Linked DNA regions of Homo sapiens. The protein of the gene in region 3 purifies or fractionates together with the protein of the main gene of each other region. This does not show direct contact. Each region holds a gene or a part of one and is shown on either strand. Other genes may lie near its edges. The genes, in order: DUSP14, PREP, NSMAF and LYG2.

Region 1 (7,028 bases), on a different chromosome or scaffold from region 3:
TTAGCCTTTCTGTAAGTAGCACTGAAACACCTTCTTAGGCAGATCCACACCCCCCCGCGTGTGTGGCAGACGCTGGCTGGTGGTGTGGAGCGCCGCGAGGCAGGTGATGAGAACACAGCCACGATTTAGTCACCGCAGAGAAGCAGTGTGTGGACTTGAGCTAGAAATCCGGACACCTTCCATCTTTTCCTAGTTTCACTTCTCAAGTTGAAATCTCTCACCCTTTCTGAACCATGTATTTTCCAATCTGTCAAGGGGGTCAGGAGTGTTTGTCAGAGAAGCATCTATAGCATCTGTGCCCTCTACGTGCCCTCTGGCGGAAGTTGTTTTCCTGAAACTTTGGACCAGCTTTGGCATTTTAAGCAGGTTTGTTGGCAAAGAGATGGACTGGCAGCAGCAGGGAGGGAGCAATGTGTCTGTCTCACTTGGATTCTGCCCCGAGGGCTCACAATCTGTTTTCCCTGCAGCACCAAGTACCCTAGCGCCACTCAGCAAATGCGAGTTAACGGAATCAGCCCGGCTTCTACAGGGAACCTGGGCTCCTTTGCCTCAGGAAGGCAAGTGGCTTCCCAGACAGCGTAATTTGGGAGGATGCATCGCTCTGCCACCCAGGCTGGAGTGCAATGGCGCGATCTCAGCTCACTGCAGCCTCTTCCTCCCGGGTTCAAGCGATTCTCTTGGCTCAGCCTCCCTACTAGCTGGGATTATAGGCATGCACCACTGCACCTGGCTAATTTTTGTATTTTTAGTAGAGACGGGGTTTCACCATGTTGCCCAGGCTGGTCTCAGGTGATCTGCCCGCCTCGGCCTCCCAAAGTGCTGGGATTATAGGCGTAAGCCACCGTGTCTATGGCCAAGCCTCTCTGAATTAGACAACAACTAGATAACCTACTTGGAAATTTGATTAGCATCTTCCAGATTTTCCACAATGAGGAGCGTCATCCCCAGCAGCTTGAAGGCCTAATTTTGTGTTTATTACCACAGTGACTTTGCTTTTTAAACCAGTAGGATTCTGCCAGGGAAGACTTGGAAGTGGCAGGAGACCCTGCTCTGCTGTAGGAAAGGATGTTCTCAGAGTTTCTGCCCTGTTCATAGTTTACATCCAATGCACACACACGCAGTTTCCTTATGTGACTGCGTCCTTGTTCCTCCTCATGCTGTGATTTCACCTGTGGACTGCTCTGTGTACTCCCATAGCATTAACCAGTCATGGGATGTGGGCTCCCAAAGCGAGGCCTAGCCTCGAGTGAGGAGGCAGCTCCCTTCAGAGAAGGGCAGTGTCCAGGAGGGACTTGTGGTCTGTTAGCACCAGTACACCTGGTGCCTCAGTCTTCCAGGGGGAATGCAGACAGAGCCACAGCACTCACCTCTGCAGCAGTTCTCAGACGTGCCCCCGACCCGCAGCCTCACCTCAGAAAGGCAACTCTTCCAGCCCCACTCTGGAGGGACGGAATCAGAAGCTGGGGAAAGGTCCAGCAGTCTGTGCGCACAGCCCTCTGGGGGATTCTGAGGCATGCTCAGGTTTGAGAGCCCCTGCATTATAATGATAGAAATAGTTGTAAATGGAGCCAGGCACAGTGGCTCATGCCTGTAATCCCAGCACCTTGGGAGGCCAAGGTGGGTGGATCACTTGAGGTCAGGAGTTTGAGACCAGCCTGGCCAATGTGGCAAAACTCCGTCTCTACTTAAAGTACAAAAAATAGCAACGTGTGGTGGTGCACGCCTGTAATCCCAGCTACTCAGGAGGCTGAGGCAGGAGAATCTCTTGAACCTGGGAGGTGGAGGTTGCAGTGAGCTGAGATTGCGCCACTGCACTCCAGCCTGGGTGACAGAGCCAGACTCCATCTCAATATATATATATATATATGTATGTATAAATAAATATATATGTATATTTATAAACTTTTTTTTTCAAAAACCATTTTAAAATGTTAAACATACGTGTCATAGGACCCAGCCCTTCACTCCTGGGTATTGAACTGAGAGAGGAAGGCATATGTACGCACAAAGACCTGTACGTGGATGCTCATAGCAGCTGTACTCACAATACCTTTAAACTAGAGACAACCCAGGTTCATCAGTAGGTGAATGGATAAACAGAGTGTGGTGTATCTACACAGCAGAGTACTTAAGAAGTGAGCTGTTGATAACCCAGCGTCATGGGTGAATGTCTAAGTTATGCAGAGTGAAAGAAGCCAGACCAAAAAAAAAAAAAACCCATATATATATATATATATATATATACACACACACACACACACACACACACACACACACACACACTCTATATATATATGTACTATGTATATGTGTACTATATATGTATATATACACTATATATACACACTATATACACACTATATATATATATATATATATATATATATATATATATATATATATATATATATAGTGTGTGTGTGTGTGTGTGTGTGTGTGTTTAGTTTTTGAGACAGAGTCTTGCTCTGTTGCCCAGGCTGGAGTGCAGTGGTGCAATTTCGGCTCCACTGCAACCTCCACCTCCTCCTGGGTTCTAGTGATTCTCCTGCCTCAGCCACCCAAGTAGCTGGGATTACAGGTGTGTGCCATCATGCCCGGATAATTTTGGTATTTTTAGTAGAGACCTGGGTTTCTCCACATTGGCAAGGCTGGTCTCGAACTCCTGGCCTCAAGTGATCCACCCGCCTCGGCCTCCCAAAGTGTTGGGATTACAGGCGTGATCCACCACGCTTGGCCTATATATATTTATATGCTATAAATATATAAAAGTCCATTGATAGAAAAGTCTAGAGTGCAAACCATAGTGATAAGAAAGATCAGTGGTTGCCTGGGAATGGGGTAAAGAGCAAGAAAGGGTTGGATTATTAAAAAAAATGAGGAAATTTTGAGGGGGATGATGGATGTGTTTATTATTATGATGTACTGGTGTCTCCATTGTGTACATATGTCAGAACTCATCAGGTAATGTACCTGATCAAGTTGTATAGCAGTTTATATGTCAAGAACACCTCAACAGAGCTGTAAAAAAAACACGACAGGTCTGACAGTTACCTGGGAAAGGTGGGGGAACAGGTGGTAGAAGAACACATTTTTTATGATGTTCATGGTACTTACATAACATAAATGAATAAAATAGGGCCAACATGGAAAAGAAAACAAAATGAAGGAAAATGTCAAATTGCCATCCTGAACACCAGCACCGCCTGTAATTAGCGTTCCTGGCTGCAGCCACATCTGCGGTCCTGCTCCTCATGAAGCCGTCCTCCGTGCCATGTCCCGGCCATGCCTGTCCTTAGCTTCCTGGTGCACACTGTCCTCCACCTTGTGTTCAGGCACAGGGCTGCTTGGCTCACCCTTGCTGCACCTGGCCTGTCCGTCCTCCCACCGCGGTGCCGCCCAGGCCTTCCCACTGCAGGGCTGGCTAACGGTGCATGGAAGAGACTCGAGTCCGTGTTGTGTCCTCATAGCCCACCGAGGAGGCAGCAGTGCCGGACATTTCGCGGATAGGTTGTGGTCTCTGAGTCTCCTCCTCTCAAGAGGATGAGATTTGTCTGTGTTATTGTCAAAACTCTTATTTGTCACGCCGCGGGTTATGTGTCAGTAACAAAAAGCTGAGATTTAGGCCGGTGTTTCTTACTGGTGCAGCCTTTAAATGCACACCTGCGAATGTTCAGTGCACCTTCCGCTTCCTGGCTCTATTTCAGTCAAACCTGAGGTCGTAGTGAAAGTCGGTGAGGAATTCTTTGGAACTTCCTGATTGGCTGTGTCCTTGCCTCCTTGTCTTCCCGCAGATTTGATTTGTATCCACTGTCACCAGCACTGCTCACTTAGGACTTTCTGGATCCGGACCCAGGCAGCGCACACTGGACTCTTGAGGAAGTGAGTACCCCACCACTGCCTGCCTGTTGAACCCGGGGAGGCTCTTGTCTGACTGAAATCACTGCAGGCTTCCCGACGATCCCCTGGGTGTGTGTGGGCAGGCGCACTTGCCACTGGGCACAGGTGATAAAGCATTGTGATTTTTTTTTTTGGTGAGAGGAACGGATGTATCTAAGATCTCAGGAAACTGAGAACTTCCTTTTCTGCTCTTATTAAATGTCAATATATATATAATATATATCAATATATATGTAAATGTATATATTGACATTTAATAGCAAACACTGGAATAATGAGAGGATAGTGACGTTCAGACGTTAAAAGCCAGTGGGCTTCATCGTGGAGCTCAGAATTAAGGTGAAGTTATTTAGCCACACCCAAGGTCAGGTCAGGTAAAATGCTCATTTAACTTACAGGAATGAACTTTGAAGACCATGGCCTTCAAATTGCCTGGGATTATTTCCATGGAAATGCTACTGTGTTTACATTGTCACGAAATGATAGGAAATAGTTTTTGGTTTGGGTTTTTGTTTTTGTTTTGAGACAGAGTCTGTCACCCAGGCTGGAGTATAGTGGCACGATCTCAGCTAGTTGCAACCTCCGCCTCCCAGGTTCAAGCGTGTCTCTTGCCTCAGCCTCCCGAGTAGCTGGGATTACAGGTGCTCGCCACCATGCTCAGCTAATTTTTGTATTTTTAGTAGAGACAGGGTTTCCCAATGTTGGCCAGGCTGGTCTCGAACTCCTGACCTCAGGTGATCCACCCGCCTCAGCCTCCCAAAGTACTGGGATTACAGGCATGAGCTACCTCACCTGGCCTTTCCTTTTTTTTTTTTTTTTTTAGAAGCTGGGTCTCCCTGTTGCCCAGGTTGCAGTGTGGTGGTGGTGCAATCACAGCTCACTGCAGCCTCGACCTCCCAGGCTCAAGTGATCTGCCCACCTCAGTCTCCTGAGTAGCTGGGACTACAGGCATGCACTACCACACCCAGCTAATTAAAAAAAAATAAAAAATAAAAAATAAAAAGTTTTTTTGTAGAGATGGGGTCTCACTGTGTTGCCCAGGCTGGTCTTCTGGTCTTGAACTCCTGGGCTTAAGCAATCCTCCCACCTCAGCCTCCCAAAGTGCTGGGATTACATGTATGAGCCACCATGCCCAGCCACCCCCCCCCCACCCCACTTTTTTTTTTTTTTTTTTGGACAATCACCAGAGAGCTGAATTTTACATTGATTTCACATGTTTGTGTCTTAGGTGACTTTTCCCAACTGTTAATTGATAGAAAATGATTTGTCTGTATCCTTGAAAGATTGTACTGTATTATTTAAAAAAAAACCCTCTAATCTTCCCATTTGACAAATGTGACAGAAGGCTGTGATGAATCAGTAGCATTTAAAGTACTGACACATACCTGTATTTTGCAGGAAGGAGACTCTAATTTTGGATTCCTTGGTGGAGGAAAATAAAACACTCTGGTCTTGCCGCCAACGATGCAAGTGTGACTGCTGGCGTCTTCATGAGCTCCAGAGGTCACAGCACGCTACCAAGGACTCTCATGGCCCCTCGGATGATTTCCGAGGGAGACATAGGAGGCATTGCTCAAATCACCTCCTCTCTATTCCTGGGCAGAGGCAGTGTGGCCTCCAATCGGCACCTCCTCCAGGCTCGTGGCATCACCTGCATTGTTAATGCTACCATTGAGATCCCTAATTTCAACTGGCCCCAATTTGAGTATGTTAAAGTGCCTCTGGCTGACATGCCGCATGCCCCCATTGGACTGTACTTTGACACCGTGGCTGACAAGATCCACAGTGTGAGCAGGAAGCACGGGGCCACCTTGGTGCACTGTGCTGCAGGGGTGAGCCGCTCAGCCACGCTGTGTATCGCGTACCTGATGAAATTCCACAACGTGTGCCTGCTGGAGGCGTACAACTGGGTGAAAGCCCGGCGACCTGTCATCAGGCCCAACGTAGGCTTCTGGAGGCAACTGATAGACTACGAGCGCCAGCTCTTTGGGAAGTCGACAGTTAAAATGGTACAGACACCTTATGGCATAGTTCCCGACGTCTATGAGAAGGAGTCCCGACACCTGATGCCTTACTGGGGGATTTAGTGCCACTGAAGCCTGCGTCAGCAGCCCGAGCGGGGCCGGCATCTGCTCCCCGCCGTCTGCTCCCTCTCCACTCTCTTCTCAAATGGCTGACTTCTGGTTCTCCCTCAAGTGTTTTTTACACTGGGTGTTCAAATTTATTTTAAGAGATAGGGAGGGAGGGGACATAAAGGGAATGCATACATTGCTAGTCACATTTTTAAAATTAACATTTTGGAATAGTGTTTATGGAAATCTTTAGCTTTTAATCATTTTTACCAATTTGAACAGTTTAATAAACTGGTTCTGCTCTCTTCTGAATCTCATGCCTTTGGCACCTTGGTAGGTGCAGGAGGAGCTCAGTGCAAAAATCACTTTGGGGCCTCATTAACCCTTTAGAGACAAGCTTTGCCCCAGGCTGCGGACCAGACAGATGCTTAGGGAAGGTTGATAACCAGCTTCAGTCTCTACTGGATTAGCCCTACTCTTTCCTTTCCCCTCCATTATTTAGTGACTCTGTAAGTAAGTTAAATACACCCTTATTATTTAGCTGTTAAGTAACTATAATGAAATCTGCTGCAAAATCTCTCTTGGAATCCATGTGCCCAGGATTATATTAGCATTATTTTTAATAAATCTATATGCTTAACATATTAGAATTTTTACTAATAATTTCAAGGTGTGTGTGTGTCGATGATGGGAAAAAGGTGCTCTCCAGTAACTAACTAACTAACTGCTGAAATGTGGCTCCTGTGCCAGTTGGGAACATTACTTAAAATACACATCCCAGCAGAGTCTTGTCGGCGCGTCACATCCTGGTGGACAGGCAGACACACCGTCCCCGGTGCTGGGCCGGTGGGAGATGATTGATAGTGCACGCTCTGATCAGGGGTGCTGGTTTTGGTTTCCTCTTGGTTAGTGGAGCGCCCCGAAGCAGCGTGTCCTCCATCAGAGAAACTGGTTTTCAATAAAAGGTGCCTCTGCTTGACTATTATTACCACATACGAAAATGCCCTAAACCAAACCTCAGTATGAGCGATAAGCAAGTAACAAAAACAAACAATGGCT
Region 2 (7,028 bases), on a different chromosome or scaffold from region 3:
AAAGTTGTGGCTCCTGGGATTAACTCTGGAATTGTCCTGGAGAGAATGTTTCTTGTCCTAGTTAAAAATATCTGATCAATAACTTCCATCTGCTGTAGATGATGGTGCCCGGTCTGGGCAGATAGGGCTGCTTGGTGTAAAATTCTAGATATGCCTGAATTTAGTAACATAATCCAGGAACATTTTTTAAGTGTCTATTCTGGCCCCTCTGATGAGTGTTTGGGGAAAAGGGTGGGCTGACTGCTTTAGTCCCAGGTCTGGTTCTGAACTTGATATGGTTCTGGGCATGTTACCCAGCCTTATCCCTGCTGTTGCTCCTAGAAGTGCATGATTGAAAGATGCTTTACAATTCAAAATTTTCTGATTTCTTAATGCTAGGAAAAGCAGATTGTTATTTTAAGCCTATTTTATAACCACTTCAAGGTGTGTAAAACGTAAAAGACTTGCAGATGAGAAGAAAAGATGAAAAGCTGTTGTTCGGTGGTGACAATCTGCTAAAATTTAGAGAGGTCAGAATTGAAAATTGGTAACTTTATGAAGACCCATCTGGAGAGGCTTTAGTCGGGTTTTATGTTCCTTGCTCTTGTTTTTACGTCCCTTGCTCAGTCAGTTGTTTAATGAAAATATATACAGAGTGTTCTGGCTTACCTGCCCATTTATCCAGTTGTGCATTTCCCCAGGAGTTCTTTGACCTGGCATCAGACAAGGACAGATGTGGAAAGCCCGGTGTTGTAAGGGCCAAGGAGATTGTTCTCACCCAGCCAGAGCCACACTGGAACTAGAGCAGCACTAGGTTTTCTTTAGGAAATAGCCCTTACCTTCTGGCATTGTAGAACAAAGCAAGGAGACAGATTAAAAAATTCATCTGAGATAGAGGTAGTCTTCCCAACAGCTTTATACAAGAAGCCTTAACTAGAATGTTGGAGTGGTTCAGAGACTTGATTGGCAAGACATTGTCAGTGTGGTTTCATTAATGGGGTTAATCTTTTTTTTTTTCTGAGATGAAGTCTTGCTCTGTTGCCCGGGCTGGAGTGCAATAGGCGTTGTCTCAGCTCACTGCAACCTCTGCCTCCTGGGTTCAGGAGACTCCCCTGCCTTAGCCTCCCGAGTAGCTGGGATTACAGCACCTGCCACCATGCCCGGCTAATTTTTAAATTTTGAGTAGAGACAGGATTTCAGCATGTTGGCCAGGCTGGTCTTGAACTCCTGACCTCAAGTGATCCGCCTGCCTCAGTCTCCCAAAGTGCTGGGATTATGGCTGTGAGCCACTGCACTCTGTCCTAATGGGGTTAATCTTGATGGTATCAGGTGGAGAGATTTTGTAATGATTTTTACTGCTGGATAATTTCTTTTGGCATAATCACTTGAGGAGTGGTGAAAACTGTTTCTACTTGCTCCTTCAAACGCCTTCAAGTGGCTTCTAAGGCCAGGCCTTAGAAGCTCCAGAAAGCTTCCTTCAGCCAGGTTCTACTTACACTAAGCAGTTTTATTTCTTCCAATATCATGGTAACCTGAATGGGTGATGCTTTTGCACCTTCTTTTTGTAAACAGTGGAAAAAAGCATTTCATAACAGTAAATAAAAAGGAAGAAAGGCATTAGTTTTAAAATGTTTTGCCATTGCATTTAAGTCAGCTTTTTGAACTTATGTCAATTAGAATCATTATACTACATATTAGTAACTTGCTTTTTGGCAGTTTAGACATAAAAGCAAACCTGGGCTATATTGCAGGGAGATTTTCTAATCATTGGGAAGCTCAGCGGAACAGGAGAATGAGCACGTGTGTGTTAGCCCCCTCCCTGACGTGCCCTTCTTGTGTGCCCACTGTATTGTCCACTGTATTGTGTCATTCTGTGCTTGGCTGCTGACAGCACGTTTTCAAGTTTCTTTAGCACAGTGGCAGGTCTTTGTTTTGTGTTGTAGGGACAGAGCGGTTTCCTGTTCTGACCTTTCATCTTTCTTTCCTCTCTAGCTGAAACATTCTTTTCATGAAGGGTGGCTTGACACCTTTGAGAACCTGCCAACTTTGGTTCATGTGGTAATTTGGGCAGACACGTTGCCAGTGAGCCAATTAGCATTTTTGTCCATCCCTTTCCTATTTCTCCATTACATTAAAAAAATACCAGTTTTAATTGGGGTTAGAGAGTAATTATCTAATACCTCATTTTGTTTTTTACAGGTACAGGATTATCATGGTCATAAAATTTGTGACCCTTACGCCTGGCTTGAAGACCCCGACAGTGAACAGACTAAGGTAATTTGGTTTCTAATTAAAGATAAGGCAGCCTTAGTAGCTAGCACCAAACTCTAAATGTCAGTAACTATAGCTTTTCCTTTCTGGTGTTCTCCTGTGTTTTCTGCCATGGGATGGTGAGTATACCTGTTGTTACCACTACTTTTTGTCAAATAATTTATGGGAAAAAGACAAAAGCATGGCTTAGTCCCAGAGAAGATCACCTAAGTGTTTCAGATAATGTTTATGGTTCATAGTGACACTGATGAGCTATTTTAAATGAAAATATCAGAAAGAAAACTGATTTTTGCCAAAAGAAAAAATGAAAACCTAGATAGAAATGATGTTAAAGGAAAAAATTGCCTAAATATTTTTTTCCAAAGAAAAGGAAATCTTGTATATGAAATGAATATTAGGTCATGAAAACTGAACACTGTCCTTAAATTGCTTATTGATGTCAACACAACAACAGTGAAACAAAAGCTAAGTAGTGAAGGGGCAGGGGGGAGCATTTTCTGCCCTAAAAACATAAAGCTTTCATATTCTTTTGGAGAAACAGTATTTCAAGGATCCTGCTGAAGTCCATTCAGTAATGAAGGTGGCCCTAAGTCCTATGTCCCACAGACATTTTTCCCTTTTTGGAGTGCCTAGGACTTGTCACTTATGTATACTTTTTTTTTTTTTTTTTGTAGACAGAGTCTTACTCTGTCACCCAGGCTGTAGGGCACTGGTGCGATCTTGGCTCACTGCAACCTCCGCCTCCTGGGTTCAAGCAATTCTTGTACCTCAGCCTCCCGAGTAGCTGGGATTACAGGCATGTGCCACCACACCCGGCTAGTTTTTGTATTTTTAGTAGAGACGGGGGTTTCACCATGTTGGCCAGGCTGGTCTCGAACTCCTGGCCTCAAGTGATCCTCCCGCCTCGGCCTCCCAAAGTGTTGGGATTACAAGTGTGCACCATCGCGCCCAGCCCATTTATGTGTACTTTATGTAGTTAATTAAGTTTGCTTGGTTGGGGGAATAGTGTTTCTCAAGTTCATCTTAAGTTCTTGGATTCTTCTATTTATAACCATAGTACATAATACTTAGTACATATTTGCAGTTTCTGATATGTTCAGCATCCCAAAATTTATTCGAGCTTCTTTAGAGTTGCAGGGTACGTTTCCCATTTAAAAAAAAAAAAGGTTAAATGGCACTCTAGGTAGTTTTTCAGGCCAGTCTTCAAACGCCTGTGTCTTAACTCCGCCTGTTTCTTGCAGTCCCTTTCCACCGTATATACCAGTGTTCTCTGGAGACCTGAATTCAGATTTGCCAGGAAAGCATCCCTTCCTGATGTAGAATTGCCCATCTCCCCACTGGGACAAGGAAAGGGATGGAGTGAAGAGCTTAGCCAGAGCATGATGGTATATGGAGAAAAGAGAGAAAGTAGAGGCAGGGGAGTAAACCACATGATCATCTCTTTCTTCTTCCTTTAGTCTCAAGCACTGGCTCACCTGCTTTCTGCTATCCTCACCTGTTCTTTGTGAGTAGTGTCTCTCCTTTGCCCACTGCAAAGCTCTTACAACTTCTTTTTATCCTTTGTCCCTAAAGTAAGCACACTGCTATTTTGAGATTTCCTAATGGTTTTTACTTTTATCTGCAATCCTACATTCTTTCTCTAACTCCCTTCAAGAAAGACAAAGATCTCATGGATGAGAATGGTTGATATTTGGGGTTTAATTTTTCTTTCCAGAAGCACTGGGTTATAGTAGTGGATGGGCAGAAATTCCAAAGTGAGAAACACCTGAGTATCTTTAGGAATGGTGAAGGCTGTAGCTCTGCAGGTAAGTCTGAGGGGACAGAGAACAGGTGTGGGGTTACCTCCCCACTTCATCCCTGCCATAGATTACCTTGATTGTTCAACACTGGGCTGACTGAGACAGAGGGATTGGGTCTGGGAGTGGAGAGTCACATGCACCTGCATAACCTGTACTGGCTAGAAAGCACCAGGGAAAGGATGAAGTTCCTGTGCATCTCTTGGAAAACTGTCTCTAAGGACCTGATGATTTCTTCACCTGAAGTATCGGCTATAACCTGGATTTCTACAGCCTTTGATGGTGATTGAGTGATTTAGCACTGTCAAAATGACCCAGGTTTTATCTGTTAGTGAATGTATACTTTGCTGTTCCTTAGTTGATAATGACAGGTTCGTGGATGACAAGCCACTTATTAGTGGATATCAGGCTTCCAATTAGTGGATGAAACTGCTAATTAATGATCTTATAGTCAGCACTTGATAGAAACTAAGACATTGGAGTATACACTATTTTTGTGGTATACATTTCTTGGATGGTTACCATGTGCCAGGCACTTTACCGGGAGTTCTGCATTCCCTGTTTCATTTAATTCTCAAATTCTGAAATATATCTTTTTATTTCCCCCATTTTACAGATGAAGAAATTGAGGTGCTGAGTGATTAAATATGTTGTCCATGGCTACTCAGCTAGTAAGTGTGTAGTCAAGGGTAACCCAGGTAGACGAGGTGGTTATCAATTACACATTAAAAAATAAGTAAAAGTAAAAAGACTGGGTGTAATACTTTGCAGATGCGAGCTAAAGGAATGTATTCATGTCTGTGCTTGCCATGTGCCTTTGTAGGCCCTCAGGTGTGAACCCTGGGCCAGCCCCCACTCCCATGCTGACCTGTTCTTTTTTAAAATATATATATTTTTTAAATTGTAATAATTCAGAGTACTGTGATCTTACATCCTTCTCTGACTTCATATTCTACCATGGCAATTTTTCATGTTAGAAAGCAATCTTTGCAGCCCAGAATTTTAATAGTGATACTATTTCATCAGGCAGATGCACTATATTATGCCTAATGACTTCTGTTGGAAATGATTGTTTTCAACTTTTCACTATTACAAATAATGTCCCAAATGTCCCAAACAAGCACTTTTCTAGATCTCCACATTTCTGACAATGACATGATTACTTGTTGCAGTAGCCTTGAAATCTCTTCTCCATTCTCAGGTATTTGCTTTTTGTCGTTGCTATCAAATGGGTTCCTTTTTCATTATTGATGGCATATACAAGTGTTACTGACTCTTTTGTTAGAGACAGGGTCTTGCTGTTGCCCAGGCTGGAGTACAGCCATCTTCTGGGCTCCAGCCATCTTCCTGCCTTAGCCTCCCAAGTAGCTGGGACTACAGGCGCACACCACCATGCCTGGCTAAACTAGCTACTGCTACCGATTTTATATTTATTTTGTACCTAGTTCCCTTACTGAACTCACCAAATTTTCAGTTATTTCCCTTAGATTTTTAGATACATAATCATATAACATATAATCAAATTTAGTGATAATTCTATTTTCTCTTCTATCAAACTTTGGTTATTTTATATATTTTGTACCTAGTAATTTTTTTGAACTCACAGATTTGAATAAGTTTTCAGCTATTTCCCTTAGGTTTTCTAGATACATAATCATATCATCTACAATCAATTATTATTTTCTCCTCTACCAAATTTCGGTTCAGGTCTTATTGAATTGGTCAAAGCTCTGCAAAACATGTAAGAATAGTAGTGAGAAAGAACTTTCTAGCCTAGTGTTTAAATTGTTATTTTGAATGATATTTGTCATCTTGTTTAAGCATTGTTATTCCTACTTTTAGTTTTGGATTTTGATTTCTTTTTAATACCAATCAGGGTAATTATATAGCTTCACTAATATATTAATATTAAAATGTCCTTGAATTCCTGTGATAAAATTCCATTTTTAATCTGTTTTTATGTTCCTTACAACTATATTTACAAGAAAAGTTGGTCAATATCTTGTTATCCAATATAATAACCACTAGCCACTTGTAGCTCCTGAGGACCTGAAATGTGGCTAGTCTGAATTGATTACATGTTGTAAGCATAAAATACATGCTGGATTTCAAACACTTAGTTTGAAAAAAAAAAAAGTAAAATACCTTAATATTTTATATGGATTACATAAAACCAGTCAGGACATTAGAAACATCTGTAGCTCTCTTATAAGATCTGAAATAGAGTTTCGATTTAATCTAGTATTTAATACAGGTTGGCCAATCCTGCCACTGCCTAGCATTTAAGGCTATATCCTTTATAAAACAAAATCAGAGAAGACTTGTAATGGAAAATTCTCAAAAACAGAGTTGAAATGATTTGTGTGTAGTGGATTAAATAAAATATATTATTGAAATTAATTTTTTTTTCCTTAATGTGGCTACTAGAAATTTTTAAATTGTATATGTAGCTTGCATAATGTATCTACTGGACAGCGCTGCTCCTCTGTTTCTTTACAAAATATCTCTGTTAACATATTTCATATCAGCGTTAGATTTGCTTCAGAGAATCAACTGAATTGTGTGTTGCCTTGTACAGTCTGAAGCATTTGCTATAAAATAGCAATATGGGCCTTGACAGCTAGAAAAGATTCATCCAGATTCAACTCTCCCTCTACCCCCTGCCCCGCCCCTGTTTTTGAGAATTTTCTGTTACAAGTCTGCTCTGGTTTTGTTTTATAAAGGATATAGCCTTAAACGCCAGGCACTGTCAGAATTAGCCAACCTAAATTAAATACTAGATTAAATCCAAGACCTACTGGTAGCATTTCAGATCTTATAAAAGAGCTACAGATGTTTCTCACTTCTTGAATGGTTTTTATTGGAAATGTAATAAGCAGCTTTTTGTTTTAGAAGCTCTGTAAAGATTCTCCTCTTTACAGCAAGGTATGGCTAATACACCTTTGTGTATATGCTAATAATGTGAATAGAAAATGTTCATGC
Region 3 (7,028 bases):
TTTAAAAAGTAAAGCCATCTAAATACACACAGGGAGCTGTATTCAATTCACAGCAAAATTATCAAGAATAATAAAGTGTGGGAAACAATCTAAATGCCCAACAATGGAGAAAAGAAGTTGACATAAAATATGGCATATGTTAGAATGTGATACAATAATTTTAAAAAAGAATCATTGTTTTGAAGAATATCTAATAATATGGGAAAAACTTTAAGATTTAATATTAGGCTACAAAAGGTAGGACAAAAAGCTGTACATAAAATATGTTCTCACATTTACACACACATATACATGTCTAGAAAAAGCCTGAGAGGAATAGATAGAACAATTAGTGATTTTTTACATTTCTTTACTTTTTTATTATATCCAGTGCTTTGAAACAAGTATGTTGTATATATACAATCAGAAAGTGTTAAAAATGATAAGCAAGGCATTTGTATCAAACCTGTTGAACATTCTATCTGCATTATCAAATCTTCCATTCTGCAGGCACAGCATATACTCTGGTGCTAGAGGGGAAAAAGTCAGAGGTAAGTCAGGTCACAGAATCATTGAAGAATACAGTGAAATAAAATTTAATTGGGGGTAATGATAAAGAATCTTACCAATCCTAACAAGATAAAAAAGTACATAACCCGGGGAAGAGTAGTGACTCCCATACATGAACTTTGGTTCAGGCATTTCCTGGTAGCGTGTCTAGAATACAGAAAAAAAAAAAAAATAGAGCTAAGTGTTGGCTATGAAATAATAACTGACAAGTAGAAAAAGCCTAAAAGAAATCATAACATAGATATACCATATTCCTTAATTTCTCTGTTAGATAAGAAAAGGAGAAGATAAGAGGGAAAGAAAATCTGTGGCTAAACAGCATTCCTGAGACAAGTATTTTGGTTTCCCTGGCTTAATGGTAACAAAATGTTGGCACTAGATTAAATAGAACTGATTTTATGTGTCTCTTATGCGATTTACCACAGAATGCCTTCATGAAAATAATTCAGTGAACCTGTAAACAGGTTGCCCTCCTCCTTCCTAAACTGCAGACAAGAAATGCAAATGGTGAGCAGCTAATTCACGGTCAGGAGAAAAGTAAGAAAAAACTCTACGTAGAGTCACTGGTATAATTCCCCTAAGCCTTGGAGAAACGAATTTCCTTCCATAAAAACACAGGCCATGGCTTCTCGTGTTGCTTAGAAACCAAGAATCTCTAAGTCCACATACCAGTAGTCTCTCCAGCCGTTCCTTATTTAGGGCCCCTACTGGCTTACTGAGATCCCGGAAGGTTCCTGGATTTGACAAATCTATAAACATAAATCAATAAATAACTTCAGCTTATACTTAGTACCATTAACCTCCTGAATTAATTCAAATATACACATTTACTTCCACAAAAGTTTTTTTAAAAATTGAGAGCAATCCATGAGAGTTATTTTTGTTAGTTATTTATGTAGATGTAAAGAAAAGGTTAGCAATTTTGAGTTTTAAGTTAGACACAACCACTTAAGAGCAATATCTCTAATTTGACAATGCCCTGAACATTAATTTTTTTAAAAAAGTTTCTGATTAAGGAACATATATATATTCCAAGTAAAACAACAACAACAACAAAATTTTAAAAGCCATTATTCTTCTACCAAGATTTACTTTCTACATTCGAATTCTAGTGAATATTATTATTCTTCAATATTAGCCTATTTGAGAACTAGTGAGCTAAATATTTTCAGAGAAATACTTTATCATATTTCTAGAAAATCTATTATCTCTTTCAAGGACAAAGGTTCAAGATAATGTGTCAAGAGGAACTAACTGTTCACAATATATAATTTTTAAATATTACAAAATAAAGTTACAATACAATTACATTTTTCTTAAAATAATCTGTGGTAGCAAGAGAAGAGTAGATATACCCCAAAGGTAAAGTGGTTATCTCTGTAATATAATTATGGATGATTTTAATTTTCTTCTTTGATTATTTCAGGACTTTCCAAGTGTTCTATAACAAATAATCACAGTTTTTAATGTGATTTTTAAAAATAATATAAGGTGAGTGAAATTTTCAAAGTGAGAAGCAAATATTTCAAAACGTGGTACTTATAGGTAATAATGATAACCCTGGGTTAAAATCATGCCCATTTTTTCTGTGTGTGTCCTTCAAGAAGTATGGTGGAAAAAACATACATGAAACACTTACGTAACACTTATATAGTATCCTGGAATGGAAATTGGCAGTCCTTAGCAATACAACTGAAATGAGTTGTAATTTGTTCACATGTCACATCACAATTATAAAATAGAATTTATTCTGTCCTTTAAAAACAATACAGATGACTACTCCCCACTCAACTTGGTCAGAATTCCACGTGTGGCAGTTACCTAGTTCTGAGCTGGAATAATCATGTATTATCCATGGAAACACAGGGTACTGGGAGAGGTCGTTGCAGCTGCGGTCGGCCAGGTTGTTGAGGTGAAGGAGGTACTGATAGTTGGAAAGGTGTCCACGCTGCCACTGCAGCATGTAGCTCTCAGCAGTGTGCTCCGCCACATGGTGCTCTGGGGGAAGAGGACCCACGAGGTCTGCCACTTAACTTCGCAAACTTAGTATGCAAAAGCTAGGGGCTTAACGTGTAGACCATCCCTGTGCATTCTTGAAAAATGCATTGTAAGAAAAAGAAAAGTAGGCTGCTGACTTGTTTTCATAAAGTATTTGTTCAGCTATGTATAAACAGTTCCAAGATCAAGGAGGGGAAATTATTAAATACACTGAGCTATTACACTACCCTCCACAATATGACATAACCTAAACAAATACAAAAGTGTAGCGCAAATATATAAATATTACATGTTAATAGGTAATATTTATACAGTAACAAAGAATCCCTCCAAATGTGCTGTCTCCATGCATTTAAAAACCCATGGCCATCTGGGAAAGCTTATTTCTTTTATTATTTATGAAATTAAAGCAATCTTTTAGTTTTCTTTTAGGCTTGGAAGAGATGTACTACTGCTAATTTGTCAATGACTACATATTATTTATGCATGTGAAGACTAAGGAAAAGAAAAGAAATTGTTAAAGAAGAAAACAGGCGTTTGGCAGGAGGACCAATTCTCAAACTAAAAGAACCAGACCTGCCCCCTGAAATACCTCAGGAAAAATGAGATCTTAGATAAATGCAGCAATGAGAACTTCCCTTTCAGAGTGTAAAATGAATTAACTGTCCTACAAGTGGATTTTCCATTTTGTTCAGAAAATTCTGCTTTCAACCTTTCCTGATGCATTAAGCATCTTAACTCTTAATATTTATTCTCATCTACTTTTACCAAGTTTCTTCTTTAATCAGCTACTAGGAAAGGGCTTCAAAAATCAAAACACACTTCCCCCTCGTTTTCTACTTTTGAAACCCCTCAGAAAAAGTATGAACAATCTTAGGAATAAACTCAGTGAGAACTGACAGTTTCTTAGAAAATGGATATTTTAGATCATGGCAAAGTTTTTGGCTTGAGATTTTAGGACTCACCATGAAAGTTGATCTTTTTATTGTAATCTTGTTATAGTTAAAAAAAATAAAATTTAAAAACCTAGATCATGAGACAGGAAATTAAAGTAAACTTGTAACAAAGCTATACTTATACATAAAGTTACCTTCAATAGCTTAATGTATGAATAAAATACTAGCTATATATAACTATATATAAACTATATATAACTACATAGATATATATAATATATATATATAAACCTACTTTAAAATAAAATATGTTCCCTACTGAAAGCCAAGTATTCCTCCTTGAAGTAAAATTTCATTTCTAAGGGAAGATGTACTTTACTACAAATTTCACAAATAGTTTTGTGGTACACTAAAATAACAAACACATTAAGATGATATTAATAAAATCCCAATATCCTTTTTTGTTTGTTTGTTTTTTTGAGACAGGGTCTCACTCTGTCACCCAGGCTGAATTGCAGTGGTGTGATCACTGCCCACTGCAGCCTTGACCTCCCAGGCTCAAGCGATCCTCCCACTTCAGCCTCTCGAGTAGCTGGGACTACAGGCACACGCCACCAGTCCCAGCTAATTTTTAATTGTTTTTGTAGAGATGAGGTCAAGCCATGTTGCCCAGGCTGGTCTCGAACTCCTGGGCTCAAGAGATTCTCCCTCCTCGGCCTCCGAAAGTGCTGGGATTACAGTCATGAGCCACCATGCCTAGCCCCAAAATCCATTTTTAAAGATAATTCCTTTCCAGTTATCTAGCAACTTTGTAAACTAGAATAATTTAATTTAGCCTTGCAATGTAATAAAAAAACTTTGGGCTTGAACATCATAATATAAGTATTTTCTCTGGCAAAGGTGGGAAAATTCACATTTTCCATGGAAAACTGAGGAAATATCATTAATTAAAAGCAAATTCCACTCCAAAGTCAGTATATTGAGCATAGAAGGTTCACATGTTCCTTTTGCAGTCTTTCAGCTTTGTGGTTCTGACCACAATCAATGATCACAAACATATGAATAACTCACTGCCTCGCAGTACAAAACTGAGTCTTGGTTCTCATAAACTAATATAAGACCTGACTGAACATAAAAATATTTGAGTGGATTCTTCAAAATCCATTCAATTTGGAGGACGTTAAAATATAAGAGCATTTAAATATATTTATCTAGAGTTTTTAAAACATACATTCAGAATGAACTATTATCAAAGTGAATTTATATTTCCCAGAATTTTAAAAATATTATTTTGGCAATTATAGTTACTGATGAGAAGAAATTAGACCCACAAAGAGGCGATTCTACAAATAGCATTTTTCTTCTCTTATTTCCTATCCCAGATCCTTAGGAGTTGAACTACCTTCATATGAAAAGAAACCCTGTCTCTACTAAAAATACAAAAAAAATTAGCCTGGCGTGGTAGCGGGCACCTGTAGTCCCAGCTACTCGGGAGGCTGAGGCACAAGAATCACTTGAACCCAGGAGGCGGAGGTTGCAGTGAGCCGAGATCACGCCACTGCACTCCAGCCTGGGTGACAGAGCGAGACTCAGCCTCCAAAAAAAAAAAAAAAAGAAAGAAACAATGAAGGGTGAGCGCCAAACCTAGGTATGTGGCAATGTAAAAATAGAGATCATCTCTATCTTGAGGTTCATAGAACTTTAGGTAGATGTCGGAACACAGATCATCTTCTGTGCAAAATACTTCCAAGCCCTATAAATTCAAAAAGAAAATAATAAAATAAATAGCATTGTATTCATCTTGCAATCCCAATATAAGTATATAATTACAAAAACATTCAGTTAAACATTTGTGTTTATTTTTATAACTTATATTCCTATTTTCAATCTATAAATTTAACTCAGTGATATATATACACATATACGTTTGCGTATATATATATATGTTGTATTTATAAATGTTTTGAGAACAAGATAGTATCTCAGCTAAACTTTGTAAATCACCTTGAGTGTTGAATATTTTCATTAATAATAGCTTTTGTGAACTTGTTATTTTGAAATTCAAAAATAGCTGATCCATGTCTTCACATCTCTTCTTCAAACATAAATGTCTAGCTTTCTTTCATAAGTTAAATAACATATATATATTTTGAGACCAGGTCCTGCTCTGTTGCCCAGGCTAGAGTGCAATGGTGTGATCACCGCTCACTGCAGCCTCAAACTCCCAGGCTCAATTGATCCTCCCACCTCAGCCTCTCGAGTAGCTAAGGCTACAGGCGCACCATGCCCAGCTAATAAATAAAAATTATGCACACCTAACAAATTGATAATTGAATAACCCATTCAATTAATACATTATTATTATCTTATAAAAACCTATGAGCTTTGTGACCATAGTGTTAGTAAGGCTGAGCTAGCAAAGGAACAGACAAAGCCAGGATGAAAGCCCAGAGCTACCCTTGGTTCAAATACAGGCTTTCACCATGTACTAGCTGGGAGCTTAGGAAGTTAACCCCCGGAGTCTCAATTTCTTCACCTGTAAAATACAATACTATCTACTTCACAAGGCTTATAATGGCGAATAAATGAAACATTATATATAAATTGCCTGTTACATAGAAAGCACTTAATCAATGTTAATTTCTTCTCTTTTTCTGACTGCAGCTCTATACCCAAAAGAGGAGATTTTTAATAGTATCTGTTTCCCTGATCTGCTATTAGTGCTGGAAATGGAGGAATGGCCTTTTAAGTAAAATAGGAAGCAAAACAGTAGAATTTCACAAATTAAAAGCACAAAAATAAGAATTAAAATTCCACAATGCTTTTGTAATGTCACCAAGTTACTGGTTAATCTTCAAAGGAGAAAAAATGAATTTCTATTGGTGTCGAATTAAAACACTTGGAATCATACCTTCTGTAGGGATTGGTTACTAAAGTAAGACATGTGTCGGAAATAGGACCTAAGTATAGAAATACACTTATTCAGGGAATGGTGGAAGGAACTGCCTATATGATTTTACATGGTTATTTTGTCATTCAGCCCAAAGGTTGAATTAATGTAAGTTAACTGTGAATATACTAGTTCCACTAAAGAAGTAATTTTGTAACATCTTCCAGATTTTGCTTTGAGACCTAGCTGCTATGAATGGTGGAGGCAAGTACAGCACAGGGTTGGTTTTACACAGATCATTCTAGCCTGAGCCCAGAAACTGAGAATGCACGAATGAGAAACTCAAGGGCACTCTAGCCCTCTTGCTCTTGGAGCCAAAAATACTTCATAATAGAACCTCTTCTCTACATGAAAGAGTTATTCCTTTATGAATTTCTACCTTCTCCAAAAGAAAGAACAGCAAAATCAGAGTCTATTTTCTTACAGGACAGTGTACTTGTACTTTCAGACATCCCATAAGTGTTTACCGTCAATAAACTGCTGGCTAAACTGAAAGTGTGACAATCATGCCCCAGCACAGCCTCCCAAGGACTCACCAGAGGCATGAGGCCGTGCCTCCTTTTGTAGATGCGGCGGACATCTTGGAGTGTTATCTGGACCACAGGTTTCTTTAAAAGTAGAAAGACAATCTCAAA
Region 4 (7,028 bases), on a different chromosome or scaffold from region 3:
AAAGGATACTGAACCTGTCAATATAAGGACACTTGATCCAGATAATTTAAACAATCCCTTTCTGTCTCATTCCTTCATCCATCCAACTATCCATTCTTCCATTCAGCAAATGTTTATTAAATGTCTACTTTGTGCCAAGCATTGTTCCAGGTGCTGAGGAGGATATAGCAGAGAAAAACATCTAGTATCTGACCTAATGAAATTTATCTTCTAGTGAGAGGAACGAACAGTAAGAGAGTGAGAGGAAAAAGGGAAGAGAGAGGGAAAGAGTGAGAGGAAGGGAGGGAGATAAAAACATTTCACCTGTAAAAATTTTTGGGCTGGGCACGGTGGCTCACACCTGTAATCCCTGCACTTTGGGAGGCCGAGGCAGGCGGATCAAGAGGTCAGGAGATTGAGACCATCCTGGCTAACACAGTGATACACCATCTCTACTAAAAATACAAAAAATTAGCCAGGTGTGGTGGCAGGCACCTGTAGTCCCAGCTACTTGGGAGGCTGAGGCAGGAGAATGGCATGAACTTGGGAGGCGGAGCTTGCAGTGAGATAAAAACATTTCACCTGTAAAAATTTTTGGGCTGGGCACGGTGGCTCACACCTGTAATCCCTGCACTTTGGGAGGCCGAGGCAGGCGGATCAAGAGGTCAGGAGATTGAGACCATCCTGGCTAACACAGTGATACACCATCTCTACTAAAAATACAAAAAATTAGCCAGGTGTGGTGGCAGGCACCTGTAGTCCCAGCTACTTGGGAGGCTGAGGCAGGAGAATGGCCACTGCACTCCAGCCTGGGCGACAGAGTGAGACTCCATCTGGAAAAAAAAATTTTTTTTTTTAATGTGTCTCTAACATATAAGGACCAGCTCTGGCACAAAAAGATGTTCCTGGTTCATCTTGAACATTTCCTGCCCCAGGCAGGCAATCAGCCATTATTCTGAGGAGCGCTGGTTCCACTTAGCAGGAAATGGTATTTAGAGACCACAGTGTGGGAAGTAAAAGTGCTCCATTGCTATGGAGCTGTCGTTTATTTCAGGTGTTTTCAGTGGCAGGAACTAGAAAATATATATTTTTAAAAGGAAAACAACTATGCATTCAGATATTTCACATTTATATTTAAGAATGCAAGCATTTTACATCAGTTTTATATTTGTACCTCTGCTATCTTACACTAAAAATCCTAGTTCTAATGACATTAGCATTATTACTTATTTACATACAATAGTGTCAAAATAAGTATGACAGTATTACCAACCAACAATGAGACAGTAAATATAATTTAAGATTTTCTTGTGATTATTTATGTTCACAGGATGGATTCCTATGTAGTGGTATAGACTTATATGGATATATTTTAAAGTCACTTAAGATAATTCTCCTCTATGTGTTTATTAATCTTTCAATTTGTTATAGAGTTATGTTCATTTGTTCTTCTTTTTTATGATTCCATTTTTCCCCATTTGATTTAATTTTAAAATTTATGATAACATTTACATGGTTCCAAAATAAAAACTTTAAAAAAGATAGTTAGTCTATCCCCTATCCCTGTTCCCTTTACCTTCCTCTTACTCTCTCCATAACTAACAATTTTTATCAGTTTTTCATTCATCCTTGTATTGTTTCTTTTGAAAATATGAGCAAATCACACAAAATATACGATTGTATTTTCTTACCTTTCTTACACAAAGAGTACAATTCTATAAATACTATTTTGTCCCTGGAGAGAATTTTACAGGAGTATATACAGGTCTTATTCTTTCCTTTTGCAGCTGCATAGTGCTCCACTGTGGACGTAGCATCACTTACTCAACCAGTCCCTAAATTAATGACATTTGTGTTGTTTGCAGTCCTTTGCTCTTATCAACAGTGCTGGAATGAACAGCCTATCACAAAACTGTGTTCCACAGCAATGTGTGTGACAGCCTATTTCCTCACAACCTCTCCCACAGAGGGTATTGCCAAACCTTTGGGCTCTTGCCAACTAAAGAGTTGGAAAATGCAGCCAGGCGTGGTGGCTCACGCCTGTAATCCCAGCACTTTGGGAGGCCAAGGTGGGCGGATCACAAGGTCAGCAGATCGAGACCATCCTGGCTAACATGCTGAAACCCCGCCTCTACTAAAAATACAAAAAATTAGCCGGGTGTGATGGCAGGCGCCTGTAGTCCCAGCTGCTGGGGAGGCTGAGGCAGGAGAATGGCATGAACCCAGGAGGCGGAGCTTGCAGTGAGCCATGATCGCACCACTGTACTGCAGCCTGGGCGACAGAGCAAGACTCTGTCTCAAAAAAAAAAAAAAAAAAAGAGTTGGAAAATGCTGTTATAATGATGTTTTAATGTGGCCTTTCTCTTCTTTTGAGTGTGGTTTAACGTCTTTTATATGTTTAAGGACTATTTTCTTTTTTTGTCTATAAACTCGCTATATATTCTGCTGATAAGGTGATATTTGGACAGAGACCTGAAGGCATGATCATGTAGATACCAGGAGGAATAGCATTCTAGGCAAAAGGGACCACAAACATACAGGCTTTGAGGCAGAAACCTGCCTGGCATGTTGAAGGATAAGCACAAAGAAGAATGTGGCTGGAGGAGAGTGAACAAAGGGAAAGAGAAGTAGGAACAGGAGCAGAGGGCCACATCTAGTAGGTCTTGGAGGCTGCAGGATGGACTTGGCTATTCCCCTAAAGGAGGAGAAAGCCACTGGAAGGTTAAGAGAGAAGACTGATAGCAGCCCATGCATATTCCCACAGGGCCACTCCGTCTACTAAGTAGAGGATGGGCTGCAAGAGTGAATCAGGGAGGTCAGTTAGAAGGCTGTTAGGAGAGTCCAGATGAGCAATGATGCTGGCTGGGACTATGGCAGAAGCAGAGGTGGGAGAAGTGGTTAGATTCTTTTTTTTTTTTTTTTTTTTTTTTGAGACAGAGTTTCGCTCTTTTTGCCCAGGCTGGAGTGCAATGGCGCGATCTCGGCTCACTGCATCCTCCTCCTCCTGGGTTCAAGCGATTCTTCTGCCTCAGCCTCCCGAGTAGCTGGGATTACAGGCATGCACCACCATGCCTGGCTAATTTTGTATTTTTAGTAGAGATGGGTTTCTCCGTGTTGGTCAGACTGGTCTTGAACTCCCGACCTCAGGTGATCCGCCTGCCTTGGCCTCCCAAAGTGCTGGGATTACAGGTGTGAGCCACCACGCCCAACCAGATTCTATTTTTTTTACATCAAACATTTTAACAAAATCCTTTTTTTTTTTTTTGAGATTTGAGACAGGGTCTTGTTCTGTTGCCCAGGCTGGAGTGCAGTGGCACCATCAAAGCTCACTGCAGCCTCGACCTCCCGGGTTCAATCAATCTTCCTGTCTCAGTCTCCCATGCAACTGGGACTACAGGCATGTGCCACTACACCAGGCTAATTTTTGTATTTTTTGTAGAAATGAGTTTTGCCATGTTGCATAGGCTGGTCTCAAACTCCTACGCTCAAGCAATCGTCCTGCCTCAGCCTCTCAAAGTGCTGGGATTCTAGGCATAAGCCACAACATCCAGCCCTAAGTACTGTCTTATAACAAATATTTGGACTCTTAAGGTACAAGTTAACAGTCCTTGAAACCGTTAGAACAAACTTTTCAACATTACAGAAAATAACTTTGTATCTCCTTTAGCAAAAGCTCTGCCTCTCCTGTAACAGGTAGACTTGGACAGAAATTCACTTTTTAATGACAGAACAAAAAGACAAGAATAGATTTGACTTAAATTATTTTGGCAAATTCAATTTTTACTTCTAATTTTATTAAATATACATAGGAACTCAACTTCACAGTAAATGATATATAATAAGAATATATTTAAATTGTTATGGTGCCCTTCTTTCTTATCTTTCTAAACAAAGGCAAATTGGTTTTTTTTGAATTTTATTTATTTATTTTTATTTTATTTTATTTTATTTTATTATTATTATACTTTAAGTTTTAGGGTACATGTGCACAATGTGCAGGTTAGTTACATATGTATACATGTGCCATGCTGGTGTGCTGCACCCATTAACTCGTCATTTAGCATTAGGTATATCTCCTAATGCTATCCCTCCCCCCTCCCTCCACCCCACAACAGTCCCCAGAGTGTGATGTTCCCCTTCCTGTGTCCATGTGTTCTCATTGTTCAATTCCCACCTATGAGTGAGAACATGTGGTGTTTGGTTTTTTGTCCTTGGTGATAGTTTACTGAGAATGATGATTTCCAATTTCATCCATGTCCCTACAAAGGACATGAAGTCATCATTTTTTATGGCTGCATAGTATTCCATGGTGTATATGTGCCACATTTTCTTAATCCAGTCTATCATTGTTGGACATTTGGGTTGGTTCCAAGTTTTTGCTATTGTGAATAGTGCCGCAATAAACATACGTGTGCATGTGTCTTTATAGCAGCATGATTTATAGTCCTTTGGGTATATACCCAGTAATGGGATGGCAGGGTCAAATGGTATTTCTAGTTCTAGATCCCTGAGGAATCGCCACACTGACTTCCACAATGGTTGAACTAGTTTACAGTCCCACCAACAGTGTAAAAGTGTTCCTATTTCTCCACATCCTCTCCAGCACCTGTTGTTGCCTGACTTTTTAATGATTGCCATTCTAACTGGTGTGAGATGGTATCTCATTGTGGTTTTGATTTGCATTTTTCTGATAGCCAGTGATGGTGAGCATTTTTTCATGTGTTTTTTGGCTGCATAAATGTCTTCTTTTGAGAAGTGTCTGTTCATGTACTTCGCCCACTTTTTGATGGGGTTGTTTGTTTTTTTCTTGTAAATTTGTTTGAGTTCATTGTAGATTCTGGATATTAGCCCTTTGTCAGATGAGTAGGTTGCGAAAATTTTCTCCCATTTTGTAGGTTGCCTGTTCACTCTGATGGTAGTTTCTTTTGCTGTGCAGAAGCTCTTTAGTTTAATTAGACCCCATTTGTCAATTTTGGCTTAAGAAAGGCAAATTGTTAATCTAGATGTTCACATCTCCAGAGGCATTTGTGTCAGAAATGTTTTAAAATTCCTCTCAAAACAATAGACACTGGGGACTGTAAAAGGAAGGAGGGAGGGAGGAAGGTAGGGAGGCAAGGGTTGAAAACTACACATCAGGTACTGTGTTCACTATTTGGGTGAAGGATCAATAGAAGGCCAATCCTCAGCATCACACAATATGCCCACGTAACAAACCTGCACATGTACCCCCTGAATCTTAAAAAAAAAAAAAAAACTCTCAAGTTTCCTGCTTAAAAACCTGTCAGTTTTAATTCTGACATAGAGCATGGTATGACTACAGTGCCTGTAATCCCAGCACTTTGGGAGGCCAAGGAGAGAGGATCGCTTGAGCACAGGAGTTTGAGACTAGCTTGGGCAACATAGCAAAACCCCATCTCTACAAAAAGAGAAAATAAGCCAGTCCTGGTGATATGCACCTGTGGTTCCAGCTACTCAGGAGGCTGGGGTGGGAGGATAGTTTGAGCCCAGGTGTTGGTGCCTGCAGCGAGCTATGATCATGCCACTGCACTCCAGCCTGGACAACAGAGCAAGACCTTGTCTCTTAAAAAAAGGAAAAAAAAAGACTGCACATGTATTTAGGATCTATAAGAGATGAATTTCATAATATTTTGCATAGAGTTTTCAGATTACGTCCTGTGTTAATACAAAACAAAACAAAAGATCGGAGCAGAGTGGGCATGGGGAACTTCTGTCTGAGGAACAAATAATGGCAACAAGAGAGTTGGGGAGTTCTGTCTGTGGCCTTCTGCCTTTGGTTTAGTGATGTTTATTGCAGCAACCCAAGTAATATCTTCTCAGAGGATTCATGTGAGTTACACTTCTGCCTCCTAGGCACTTCCAGGGGCTCATACCCCTTCAGTCACTCAATGAAGCCTCACCTACATCCACGCCTGTACCACGGCTGCTATGGGGACATCATGACCATGAAGACCTCTGGGGCCACTTGTGATGCAAACAGTGTGATGAACTGCGGTAAGTGAAAAGCAGAGCAAATGACTGGCTTCCCCCTTTCATCGTTTTCAGATTCTTTCTTAGGAAGTCACTTAATTTTGAAAAGGTATAATCATCATTATGACAATAGTATCAAAATTAAAAATGAGCAAAAACCACAATCCTGACCAATCTAACAACCAGCTTCTTTTCATTTTCCACCCCCATTCTTTCCAAACTTTGTCCAGCTGTGTTTATTTCCATGTATTGAAACTACTGCTTGAATAAATATTAGACTCTGGCTTTGTTTTTTGGGTGGTGCTGCTGTGTTTGCTTCATGTTACACATGACCATTTGAAGCAATACTGTTCCAAAGTCGTCTTCATCACGTTATCCTGGTTTTAGAGTGTCGGAGCTGGCAGCAACCACAAGGTCACATCAGACCCCAACCCCTCAAATTTACAAATCAGAGCCCAAAGACTCAGCAAGGAGGGGAATACTTCCCAATAGAACAGAACCAACTAGTGGCGGAGCCAGGCTAAAACATGCATTGGCTAACTCCTAGTACAACAGGCTTCCCAGTGCACTAGTGTGGCAGAATTTTTTTTGTGTGTATGACAGAGTCTTGCTTTGTCACCCAGGCTGGAGTGCGATGGCATGATCTCGGCTCACTACAATCTCCACCTCCCAGGTTCAAGCGATTCTCCTGCCTCAGTCTCCTGAGTAGCTGGGGTTACAGGTGCCTGCCACCAAGTCCAGCTAATTTTTGTATTTTTAGTAGAGATGGGGTTTCACCATGTTGGCCAGGCTAGTCTTGAGCTCCTGACCTCAAGTGATCTGTCCACCTCGGCCTCCCAAAGTGCTGGGATTACAGGCATGAGCAATTTGAAGGAGAAACAGAGCAGAAGCGACACCTGTTGGGGGTTGTGGATCTGTTTGTTTCTGCAGTCAGAGATCAAAAGGATGTCTTAGAATGGTTGTCCCAAGTCATTAGCAGTGATCAGAGGCTGTGGCTAACTTAGCAAATTTTTAAAAATGGTTTTCTTCTGAAGTAGAAGAAACAGTTTCTTTTCTTTTTT

What was found.
Region 1: the proteins of NSMAF (region 3) and DUSP14 purify together in Homo sapiens (affinity purification with mass spectrometry; 2 studies listed by BioGRID and IntAct, with this or other methods). This does not show direct contact.
Region 2: the proteins of NSMAF (region 3) and PREP purify together in Homo sapiens (affinity purification with mass spectrometry; 2 studies listed by BioGRID and IntAct, with this or other methods). This does not show direct contact.
Region 4: the proteins of NSMAF (region 3) and LYG2 purify together in Homo sapiens (affinity purification with mass spectrometry; 2 studies listed by BioGRID and IntAct, with this or other methods). This does not show direct contact.

The regions. Positions count from the first base shown.
Region 1 is NC_000017.11:37,506,886-37,513,913, forward strand, and holds the end of DUSP14 (dual specificity protein phosphatase 14), read left to right. Parts: intron 1-3,791; 5' UTR 3,792-3,879; intron 3,880-5,295; 5' UTR 5,296-5,387; coding exon 5,388-5,984; 3' UTR 5,985-6,613; downstream 6,614-7,028. UniProt on the Homo sapiens protein: Involved in the inactivation of MAP kinases. Dephosphorylates ERK, JNK and p38 MAP-kinases. Plays a negative role in TCR signaling by dephosphorylating MAP3K7 adapter TAB1 leading to its inactivation.
Region 2 is NC_000006.12:105,393,078-105,400,105, reverse strand, and holds part of PREP (prolyl endopeptidase), read left to right. Parts: intron 1-2,178; coding exon 2,179-2,253; intron 2,254-7,028. UniProt on the Homo sapiens protein: Cleaves peptide bonds on the C-terminal side of prolyl residues within peptides that are up to approximately 30 amino acids long.
Region 3 is NC_000008.11:58,600,840-58,607,867, forward strand, and holds part of NSMAF (protein FAN), read right to left. Parts: intron 7,002-7,028; coding exon 6,930-7,001; intron 5,197-6,929; coding exon 5,088-5,196; intron 2,572-5,087; coding exon of another isoform or gene 2,548-2,571; coding exon 2,371-2,547; intron 1,299-2,370; coding exon 1,219-1,298; intron 697-1,218; coding exon 606-696; intron 510-605; coding exon 446-509; intron 1-445. UniProt on the Homo sapiens protein: Couples the p55 TNF-receptor (TNF-R55 / TNFR1) to neutral sphingomyelinase (N-SMASE). Specifically binds to the N-smase activation domain of TNF-R55. May regulate ceramide production by N-SMASE.
Region 4 is NC_000002.12:99,245,643-99,252,670, reverse strand, and holds part of LYG2 (lysozyme g-like protein 2 precursor), read left to right. Parts: intron 1-5,850; coding exon 5,851-5,991; intron 5,992-7,028. UniProt on the Homo sapiens protein: May act as a potent antibacterial protein that may play a role in the innate immunity.